2 separate regions of the Homo sapiens genome follow, and region 1 is linked to region 2. Evidence: fine-mapped expression QTL. A gene starts in region 2. The other region holds a variant in brackets. All regions are shown on one strand. Distances are between the middles of the regions.

Region 1 (5,382 bases), 46 kb after region 2:
ACCATTTAATATGGGTAAAACTGTGCTGCCATTTTTATCAGCCCACTACTTTTTTTTTTTTCTTTTTTTGTTTTGTTTAGATGGAGTCTCACTCCTTCGCCCGGGCTGGAGTGCAGTGGTGCGATCTTGGCTTACTGCAAGCTCTGAACAGGCTCCTACTTTTTAAATATATGTCACTGACAGTTTTTGAGTGTTGGGCCCCTAGCCCCATTTCTCCCATATACCCTGTCTTTCTTACTGCATGATTTGTCTAATGCAGTACATTTTAGGAATATATCTGTTACAGCAGAAATGAAGATACCTTGAATAAACACTGTCTTCTCCCTGGGTTGATGTCCTCATCCACTGTTTTCTGTGGCTCTTAGCCCAGCCCTCTGAGAGCTTGTTCTTTACCTCTTATCCTCCTTAGCCATATCTGAAGTAGTTGCATGTGTGCTATGCCTCCTCAGACACTGCTCAGCTTTATCAGCCTATTTCCTGCTAAAGGGGATGATATTGCAACAAAAAATCCAGAACACCAGGGTCATGGGATGATATGACAGTTCCAGCCTATGTGACAGACCCACCATGTGGATAGGAAGGCATATTCCATTAGAATAAAAAGAAGAAAGCATACCAGGCAGACAACAACATTAATTAAAATAGTCACGAAGGCACGAGTGTGTCTCCTGACCCAGAATAAGAGGCAACTCTCATTATTGAGCCTCTTTGAAACCTTCTGGCTATCCTGGAATGGATTAGAATGAGTGATCTCATTTGTCTGTCAATACAGCCCCTTTCCCTAACCTCATGCCAACTCAGCTAGACCTGCATTGGGCTTGCTTATTCACACACCCAAACTCATGAACCTTTGTTAAAGAAGCCAGTGGAATTTGAGAAATTCACTTTTCTTCTGAACCATTCTGCTCCTGGAAATGCAGGTCAGAGTGTTTTTCATTAAAAATGCCACTGGTAATAAGTTCATTCACCCATAAACTTTCCTATTATTTTGTAATTTTTTTAAAAAAATCTCAATTGTTATGTATTCCTTATTACACCCTAAGCATTTGAGATTACAAATTTCTAATATAAAGACATTGTATATGAATAAAAACAGGAAGGTCGCATTGCCTTGTAAACCTGACGTACTAAAGGAAAATAACATGACATTTTACAACCAAGAATTTAGAAAGAAAAAAAACCTGAAATCTTTATTTTTTTCACAACATTTAAAGGACAATGGTTCAAATTATATTGAGAAATATAAAAATTTTGGAGAAAGGAAATTCACATCTATAAGCACATCATGTGGGAAGACTTTGTAATAAGAGTGCTTTGGAAATATTGCACTAGAAATGAGTAAAATAAATGAATGTTTAATGGTATCAGGCAATGGCAAGATATGTTCATCTCCATAAAGAGCCACACAGCTCTGGCATGAGGCAAGCAATGCCTTGAGGTCAGAGTACCTTTTGCCTGGGAAGTTCTTAGATGAGTAACAGCGAGGAAACTAACAGGTTAAGAGAAAATAATTGCCTTTCCTAAGACGATCCAAATAGTGTTCAAGTCTTCAAACCTTGTTTTGATGCTCTTTCCAGCATACCATACTGTTTGGTGCTCTTATCAATATACCCTGGTGTCTCCATACCCATACTGTGTAGAAGAAGAAACCTTGGACCTTGTTTATAGAGGAAGACTCCATACAGGCAAGGTTGGGATCCCTTGAAGAGTGTCACTGTGTAAGTATTATGGGTTAAATTGTGCCCTCTCCCCAAAAAATACATGTAAATTTTAACCTCTGGCACTGCAGTGAATATGACCCTGTTTGGAAATAGGGTCTTAGTAGTGTCATCAAGTTATAATGAGGTCATTTGGGCAGGTCCTAATTCAATATGACTGGCGTCCTTATAAGAAGAGAAGACACAGACACACAGGAGGAAGACAGCCATGTGACGACGGAGGCAGAGATTGGAACAATGTATCTACAAGCTGAGGAATGCCAAGGATTGCTGGCAAACATCAGAGCCTAGGAAGAGGGAATGAAGGAGTTTCCTACAGATTTTAGAGGAAGCATCGCCTAGCCAATACCTTCCTTCCTGAACTGCAAGACATGAATTTCTGTTGCTTTTAGCTTGGTTGAGGTTCTTTGTTACGTGACACATTACTATAGTATTTTTGTTTCAAAACAGGCATTGGACCCTGGCACAAGAAGCTGTGGCAGACACTGTTAGTTACCTAGATAAAATCCATACCTGTTCCATTGCATCTCTTCCCTGCTAAAAAATCCTGCTTTCGTTCAGACATTGAAAA[C/A]CCATTTGCCTACTTCTGGCCCCACACAGAAGGTAAAATGTAAATTAACCTAAGTTACTCAGGGTCATCTCATCTCCTTTATCAGTGATGTTTTGTTAAACACTCTTTTTTCCCCTTAGACATTATCATGTGTGACGAGCGGCTTACATGGTGGTTTATGTTGTTCAGCCAGGTTGCTGCTATGAAGGGAAAGTCCACAAGAACCACAGAGAACTCAACCTGAATACCTGACAACACCGAGCCATTGAATTCATCACTCCTATAACTGCCTTATTCTGGGCTTCTTACCACACAATGTAGTATTATACCATAACCTTGTTTAGTTGGATTTTCTGTTACATGTTCCTGAAATCATCCCAGTTGATGGAAATGTGAAGGCAACAGAAAGCCATAGATTTTCCATGTCCTCATTACATTGTCCAGAGGCAGACAGTACCTGGGGGCCTCTCAGTGAGGCTTTACTGTCTCAAAAATGCCCACTGGATTGCATAAATCGACATGGTGTTTCTGCATCTCAGGTTATTCATTTTATGCAAAATATACATGTCAAGATTTTTACATTATTTACTAAATGCAGTGGCACAAGAAATATTCATAATGCATTTTGGATTATAAAAAAATGAAAACATTTAGCTTTTATACCTTTTCCATTATTTGTGTTCCAGAAGCAGCCACTGCAACTTATAATGATTTCTAACAATCATTCTCTCGGTTTTTCAACTCCTTTCCAATTTTCTGCATAGTTCAAAAGTCTAACTGTTATAATACCATGAAATCGTAGACTTGGGAAGGATTAAAAATTTATTTGACCCTCTATCACCCATTTGATATTTGAATTCTCCCTCCAGATCCTCACTGCAAAACCAGAATCTCCTTTCCAGTGACAGGGAACTTACTACTTACTCTATCTTCAGACAGTTTTATGTGTAAAAAGTTCTTTCTTTCTAGGTTAAAAAAAAATCTCTCCTTGTATATATTTTGCAAATGGCCTTAATTCTACCCACAAGGACCACAGAAAAATTTAATTACTCTTTCATGTAATAGCTGTTATCATGTGAAGTCAGCCATATAAGTCAGTTCTTTTCTTTTCAGTCCCCTCAATTCTCGTTTCCAGGACACACACACGTGCACACATACACACACACACACACACACACACTACTCCAAGAATATCTTGACTAGTGCCTTTAATTAGAACTGTCCCCCTTTCTTCATTATTTTAATTTTATTAATGCATTTAATGGTCATTGAAACTTTAGCTATTTACACACTCTGCAGCTAAGCCCATGCCATCTACTAAAATATTTACATTATGTCCACATTGTCCCCATTACATTTCATCTTGAGGGATGTGGTCCATTGATCAGTTATTTATTGCTTTCTGAGTCCTGGGCCAACTATCCACACATTTGCCATTTCAACAAGCCTTATTCTTTTCTTAAATTTGATATTCATCTGAAGGGTGAATTTGATATTTTAGATGAATTTGGTATTCATCTAAATTCATCCTTATTGTTTTTATCGTTAGACGAAACTTGCCTCTCTTCTCCAAATGGAGATGTTTAATCTATGTAAGCTTAAGGGTCCCCACTTGACATTTATCTAAGATTGCTTTTTAAATTCCAGGAAGACTCGAATGATGCAGACTCAAGGCGGACAACGAGGGAGGGAGGTACCTGCTTAGGTTGGCACCTGAACGTATTGGTATCTGCTGAGCCACCTCATGTTCATTGTGACTTTGGTTTTATTAAATGCAGATCCTGCCATATTATTTTTGTTCCTTGCAAAAAGTTCCCTTCAGGTCTGTGCCATGCTGTACCCTGAGCACAAAGGCTTATGCTGTTGCTCCCTTGCCAACTTGGTGATGTCAACCTAAATAACAAAGAGAGCCTCTCTAAAAGAAAACTATATTTATTCAGGAGTAGAACATTGCAATGGGAATACCCATGCCATATTAAACTATGTGCTTTTTCTGGGAGGTAAAGGAAGACAAAAGTTTTTAAACAAAAAATGAGGAGGATCACATAACTGTTTTGAGATAATTATCCTTGGCTACAAAGATCAATAACAAGGGTGATGCCAATTCAAAGTTGGACAGGCAGTTGCTGGAGAGATGTCCTTGCAGAAGGATTTTGTTTTTTTAGTATAAGATTGCAATGACCTTAGTTCAAGGTTATGGTTTTTTGTGGAGTCTTTTGTGATAGCTTTGTTATCGGGCACACAAGCATGAGAACCCCTCCTTCATAGACTTCCCTGGCTCTCTTTGTTAGGGTTCTTTATTGCTTTCAATATTAGTGACTTCTTTTTATTCTGACAGCTTTCACATTTGCCCCTTTTGATCAAGGTTTTTTTTTCCAAAAGCATCACTGATCAATCATCCTGCAGTTAGGTTTTAATGATCCTTGGTGCCTGGATGACTCTTTCCTGCTTGCTGGTTTCATCCCACATTAGGGGGAATGATTAGCAACTAGGAATCAGTATTCAAAACTTTTTTTAGCCACATTTCAGCAGCTAGGGAGTTTTGAAGGAAATGTCTCTAAAGCAAAATCTACTTGGAGTCCATTATTGAGTTCAATTTTGTCTGTTCCACAGTCTTTTGTTATCATGTCAAAGTGCTGGGCCAATATTATTCTGTTAGTAGTACTTCTGCAAAAAATTTAACAAGTAATAGATACGAAGTTTTAAAAGGGAAAATACAAAATAAAATTAATATTAATATGACAATCCCAGTTTGTATAATAGTTTTCAGCCATAAACCCAAGCTTAAAGGCAGTCAGTTTAATAAATCAAATGACCTTAGGGAGTTAGGTTGTAACTGTGTGGCCTGTTTTTTAAATTTTGCGTATATGAGTCTCAACTTTCCCAGAGGGATTTTTCCAGGTCCACCAAGCAGTATTAGCAATTGTACAGATATTTTTCTTACTTAACTAAGGGATTCTAAGGGATTTTTTTTTTTAGGTTAAGTTCTGTTAAGTTACCAGAAGAAGATACTGCTTGTGAAATTTCATTACATACAACATTATTCTGCTATATAAAAAGGTAGGCCTTTAGAGGGGTAAGAATCTCATTATGATACACAGTCCTGTTCTGAAG
Region 2 (5,382 bases):
CCAAGTCCTTGGGATTCTGGCTGGGTTTGGTCGGTGGGAGGCACTGGCAGGCAGCAGGAAGGGAGAAGCCACTATATTCTTCTTCCTCCCTCTCTGCTCTTGGCAGTGCCTCTACAGCAGTTCTGTAGCTCTGGTTTTCATAGGACAGACCTATTGTGATTCTGATTCCAGAGGGTGTCCCTGTTCCGGGGGCCTTGGTCACACTACCTCTTCCTCATATCCATCCAGCTGGAGGCAGTAATGACTTCCTGCTCTTGGTAATCCCTAGGTAGTCTCAACATCCATTGTTTGGCTTCCATCACTTGTTTAATCAACTATCTGAATTAAATTACTCCTTTTTTACATTCTTGAATAGATTCTGTTTTGCATGATCTGATAATAACATACATGTATGCTTTCATTAATTTGCTCTCCCACCAAAGGATCTGCACCCACAGGTTGACAACACTGGCCTATAGAAGAAAATCCCAACTCCTTAGCCTGACATTCGAGGCTTTTCTTGAACTCATCCCTGCATATCCCTCTGGCCTCATCTCTGCTGACAGCCCAATATATACTGTCCACTTCTGTCATACTGCCTTACTTCCAATTCCAGTAACACCTGAGCCTTTTTCATGCCTCTCTGCCCTCCCCGTTTTAAACTGGGAAGCCTCTCAGTTACCCCAAGCCCCTGTGCTCACTTCTAATGCCGCATGTACCACATGCCACGTTGTGACTGTTTTCCTTCGTTTACCCACCACAGCAATCTCTTTGAAGACAGAACCTAGACCTTCTTCCTCCATTGTTTAATCCCTAGCACACTATATAGCATATTAAAGGTACTCAGCAATTTGTCAGAACAAATATAAAGCTAAAGGAAAGCACAATTATACTGAATAATCAATGTCAGCCAAATGGAAAGTATAATTTTGATCCTTTCCTTTACTGAAGACAACTGCCTATGTAGGGTTCTTCCCTATGACATAACATCCATATGCTTATTTTCTTATTCTTAATCAGATAACTGCTTATACAAAAAAAAAATTGTCCTGAGACCCTGTTAAATTAATTCCTGATTATAACATTTTAAATTGTCAGTATAACCCATAAAGAAAACTTTCTGTTTCAAAGGTTTCTGCTCCCCCAACTCTCTTTCTCCCGCTCCATTTATCTCACTTTTTTTTCTCTTTCCGCATCTTTCCCTCACTCTCTGTCTCTCACCACTCACCCTTCCACAGGAGCCTTACTATACAGAGAGACATGAGAGTTTCCATGTACTCAGGTGTTTGCCGTACTGATATATTCCTGCTCCCTCTGCATAAATTTCACATAGAACATTCCAAGGAGCCCCAGCCTCTTTTCACATGTGCCTCCACTCCTTAGTAATTAGAGAAATCTGAAACAAATCATTCATATCTTGGAGTGTATGTTTGATAGCCCACACCATATCCCCTAGACTAAGAAAGAGACTGGTTTTAGAGTACAGTTACTCAATCCTGACAAGCCATTTAGCCATTTACAGAATTAAAGAGACTCCAAGAGGCTGGAGTTTGGAGGTTATACCTGACTAAATTGAGAGGAAGCATGAGATTGAAGGTTACTAGGAGGAAGAGTATACTTGATTTTTTGATTTGCTTTGCTTTTTCTTCTCAGTCTTGTTTTATAAATTTTGAAGCCCTTTTATTTACAACTTCTCTGTAGGAATGGTTGTTGATCTACAAGCTCTTAGAATATAGACAGTGTTAGCTGTGCTTAAGCAGGTTACTCCCTTCAGCCAGGTCAAAACATTACCCAGAGCAGAAAATGCATCATTTCATGACAGCACTTCTGGAAAAGTGGGAAAGGAAAATGGTACACAGAGGAAGTTGCCATCAAAAGCACACAAAGGAAACAGCAAGCAGACAAGGGAATAACCTTTCTTTGAAATAAGGCAAAATGAGATATTTACATTACTTTAAGACATTTAAAGAGAACTTTTACTGGTACAATTTTCCTGAATAAGGGAATCCTTAGAAACTTTGTCATAGAAACATTTCTTTGCAGAATAGGAAAAGAGTTTCAGGACTTCCCCCAGCAGCCCACCACCCGAGATTCAAATAACCTCAAGTTATTTGAGTCAGAGACCAGTTCATGCTTTGAGGAGAGATGTTTAAATCTGTGGGGGCTTTTTGCAACAATATTGTCACAGGTTGGCCTTAGTAAACCTACACATCTTATCAAGCACAATGTCTTCCAGAACATTTTTCCCAGGGAAAAATATCTCAGAAATCAGTCTCAGAAATCAAAAGCCCTGCATTTGCCTACACTAATTAGTTCTAGGAATGGGGGCAGGGGAGGGGGAAGAAGGGAAGTTTCAAGAATGCTACATACAAGACATGATTGTTTGGCTAATCAGTAGAAAGTTGAAAATATTCACCAAAGGGTGTGGGAAGCCTTTCTTTGGAAACAGCATCTCCATTTCATGTCACTGAATTTTAAATGATGTGTACCTATTGCAAAAAGTCTCAAAGCTTTTAATTTTGCCTCTTTCCCTGCCACCAAAAGCTCCTGCCAGTGGGTGAGCCTTTCTGATGGAAAATGAGCAAACGCTTAAATGAATGTGTCTCCTCTTGAACGGCTTTGGAGAATCCAATAGGACCTTCTGCTTTAGACAAGTGTTTGATTTTTAAAGAGGCAGGAACAATAACAACTTACTGTTCTGGAAAGATAATGACCTATCTCAAAGAAGGGTCAAGGAAATAGTAAATAATCTTCAACAGAAAAGGGAAAATCTAGAGAAAGTAGAAAATGGGGATGGTATTACATCCTCCAAATCGCCACCTCCCGCCTAAAGGAGGAGGAAAAAGTCCATACACTCATGAGGACCTCCTCATGTCCCTCTTCATAGGAACCGAGCGCTCCTCTAGGGATTTTCTTGTTCCCAGGAGGTGATCAGAGTTAGGAATTACACTTACTGACCTGGACCTCGCGTTTTTGCGGAGACGCGGAAACAAGATGTGTGCAGTCCGTCTGTCCGATGATTAGCCAGCCGACCTGGAGAGGGCCCTGGAAGGTGCCCAAAGGCAAGTCCGGTTCCGTCCCCTCCTAGGGTCCAGGACAGCCCGCGCCGCGCGGGCGGGCAGCCGGAGCAGTCAGAGCGGCTGGGCGGTTGGCGCTGCCGGGTCTGCTGCCGACCTCTCAGGCCAAGCGCGCCTGGGCACCGCACTCACTCGCGGGGTGGGCGGGTGAAGGTGGGAGGATCAGAGATGGGAGCGTGGGGAGGGGGGCAAACCCCACCCTTAAACACAAGAAAACAGGTGCAGAGGCTGCGGGCGATGGTCCTGCAGGGGAGGGGACTGGAGGAGAAGTTTTGGTGGCGAGGGAGCAGGAACAGTGTCCAGGGTCTCTCAGCCGCCTCCCGGGCTTGCAAGCCCGCTCAGCCAGACCCTACCCAGAGGGGCGCCCCCTCGCGGGTCCCCAGCCACCACCTGCAGCTGCTGCTGTCACCTACTGTGCCACCCCCAAGTTTGATACTCTGGGCGTTTGCGCCACCCCTACCTCCCTTCCCTTCCACGAATCTCTCCCTTTGCTCTCTACCCCCCAGTTCCGCGAGAGCTGGCCCGGCGAAGACAGACCTCCTGGACTTGAGGCCGACTTCACCAAATCCGCCCCGGGAAAAGGCGAGGGCAAAGGCGGGGCGGACAGACCCAGCTGCGGCTGAGGGACTGCGGTCCCTAGCAAGGCAGGCGAGCGAAGGAGACCTCAGGCTGGCGGGAGGAGGGCCGGGGCTGGAGAATCCCCGCGCCTCGTAGGGGCTGAGAAAATTCCACAACTTCCAATCGAGAGTTGTTTTCTTTTGTGTGTGTAGGAGCAGAGATGGGGAGCTGGATCCGCGCAGAACCCCGGAAAAGCGCCAGCAGGATTGCACCGAGAACAAATCCTCCGCACCCTCGCCCAGGGCTGGGGCGCAGTGCGCTGGTGCTCCTCTAGCTGGGCGGTCCCTGTGCTCCAAACGAGAAGGTAAAGCGAGTTCAGATCCTGCTGCCCATGATCAGCAATTTCCCTAACAGGTGTCTGCAGACAGTTTATAAGTTGAGTAGTGCAGATTCAGACTCGATAGCCAGGAACCTGTGTAGTGAGCTCTGGCTCAGGTTAAAAGCTAGGATAGGGATAGGATAGGAAAGCTATGGGACACGAATAAAACACAATCTCTCTCTCTCTCTCTCCAGATAGCTGACTTCCGAATCCTTCACTCTTTGATCCTGACCCAAGCCACTCGTGCCACTAGGAGCGCATGCCTATGGAATACTCGCTCCTGTCTCCTTGTGGTGAAGCCTTCCGCTAATGCCCAGAGCCTCCCAGGCTGGATTAGTGGGTAGGAGCAAAACAGGATAGTGGAGACAATCAGCAGAGCAGCAGCGTCTATTTCCTCGGGATTCCTCCCAGGAACCCTATTCGAAGCCATTCCTTCTAAAAGTTTGCAGCCAGTCTCTCTTTCCTTTGTTGGTTTTAAGAGGAGGCAGTAGAGCTACCTACATACAAAAACGAAAGCCTGATACTGGTAACCTAAGTCTTTACTTAACCATCCTCTTCGGAGGCTTTGCACACATTACTTTTCCTCTATGCATTGTCATTTCTGAAATAAGGATGGTCATACTGGTGTGCTTGGAATTTCTCTGAAATATACTCCTAAAAGATTAGATTAAGATTAGATTCCGCTACTCTAAAATGAAAAAAAATATTTATCTGTTTAAAAAGGTAATACATATTCTCCAAGATGTTAATTAAAGGCTTCCCTCAAATGGATTGGATTTTCAGTTCCTTCAGGGTTTTCCACACCCTAATAGTATTGCATTTGTAAGGCATTTTTACAGTGTAACCTGAAATTAATCTTCAGTTAATATAGAATTATGCCCACAGGAGTATAGGAATTGTTTATAAAACAAAGCAGCCTGGGCTTTTCAAATACCTAGAAACAAAGGTAAACAGAAATGGAAATATTTAACATGTTCTACACAGTTCCACTTAAAGTCTTTTAGTAGTTGTTTTTGTTTTGTTTTGTTTTGTTTGTTTTTTCCTTAAGAAAGTACTCTTTGCCCAAATATGTGTTATATGTGACAGGTTCCATTCTTCTCAATATATCTGCATTGGTGAAGAATGAACCATATACCAATAAGTTATAACTTTAAAAGAGTAGAAATGGATTTAAACAACGACCACAAAAACAAATCAAATATCCAGCAAAACAGATGAGTGTTGTCTTTTAGAGCAATTGCTTTGGAAAATTCAACTGATTTCACTGACATTGATTGCACAAAACACATTTTATCTTCTTTAAAATTGCCTTTCAGAAGCGTATTAGCAGCCATAACCAACTATTTGCCTCACTCTCTTATAGACGTGTGTTTGTCTTAGTAGATTCAT

Direction of the effects. Alleles are on the strand shown, and positions count from the first base shown. SD is a standard deviation of normalised expression in the study named.
For the expression in prefrontal cortex of the gene that starts at base 3,367 in region 2, allele C in region 1 goes with a lower level than allele A (large effect, 1.5 SD a copy in ROSMAP).

The links. PIP is the estimated chance that this variant, and not a neighbour inherited with it, causes the effect. A credible set is the group of variants that fine-mapping cannot tell apart.
Region 1: its variant is the best candidate, but not a certain one, in a credible set for the expression of NPY2R in prefrontal cortex (ROSMAP, PIP 0.53).

What each region holds. Positions count from the first base shown.
Region 1 is chr4:155,160,316-155,165,697 of GRCh38, reverse strand. No RefSeq gene overlaps it. Among named protein-coding and RNA genes, the nearest start is that of NPY2R-AS1, 45 kb to the left of the region's middle. The variant C/A (reference allele first, on the strand shown) is at 2,290.
Region 2 is chr4:155,206,621-155,212,002 of GRCh38, reverse strand. It overlaps NPY2R (neuropeptide Y receptor Y2), which reads right to left and starts at 3,367. Exons shown (of 2, transcript NM_000910.4): 1 at 2,934-3,367. It overlaps NPY2R-AS1 (NPY2R antisense RNA 1), which reads left to right and starts at 3,831. Exons shown (of 2, transcript XR_001741894.2): 1 at 3,831-3,978; 2 at 4,188-5,382.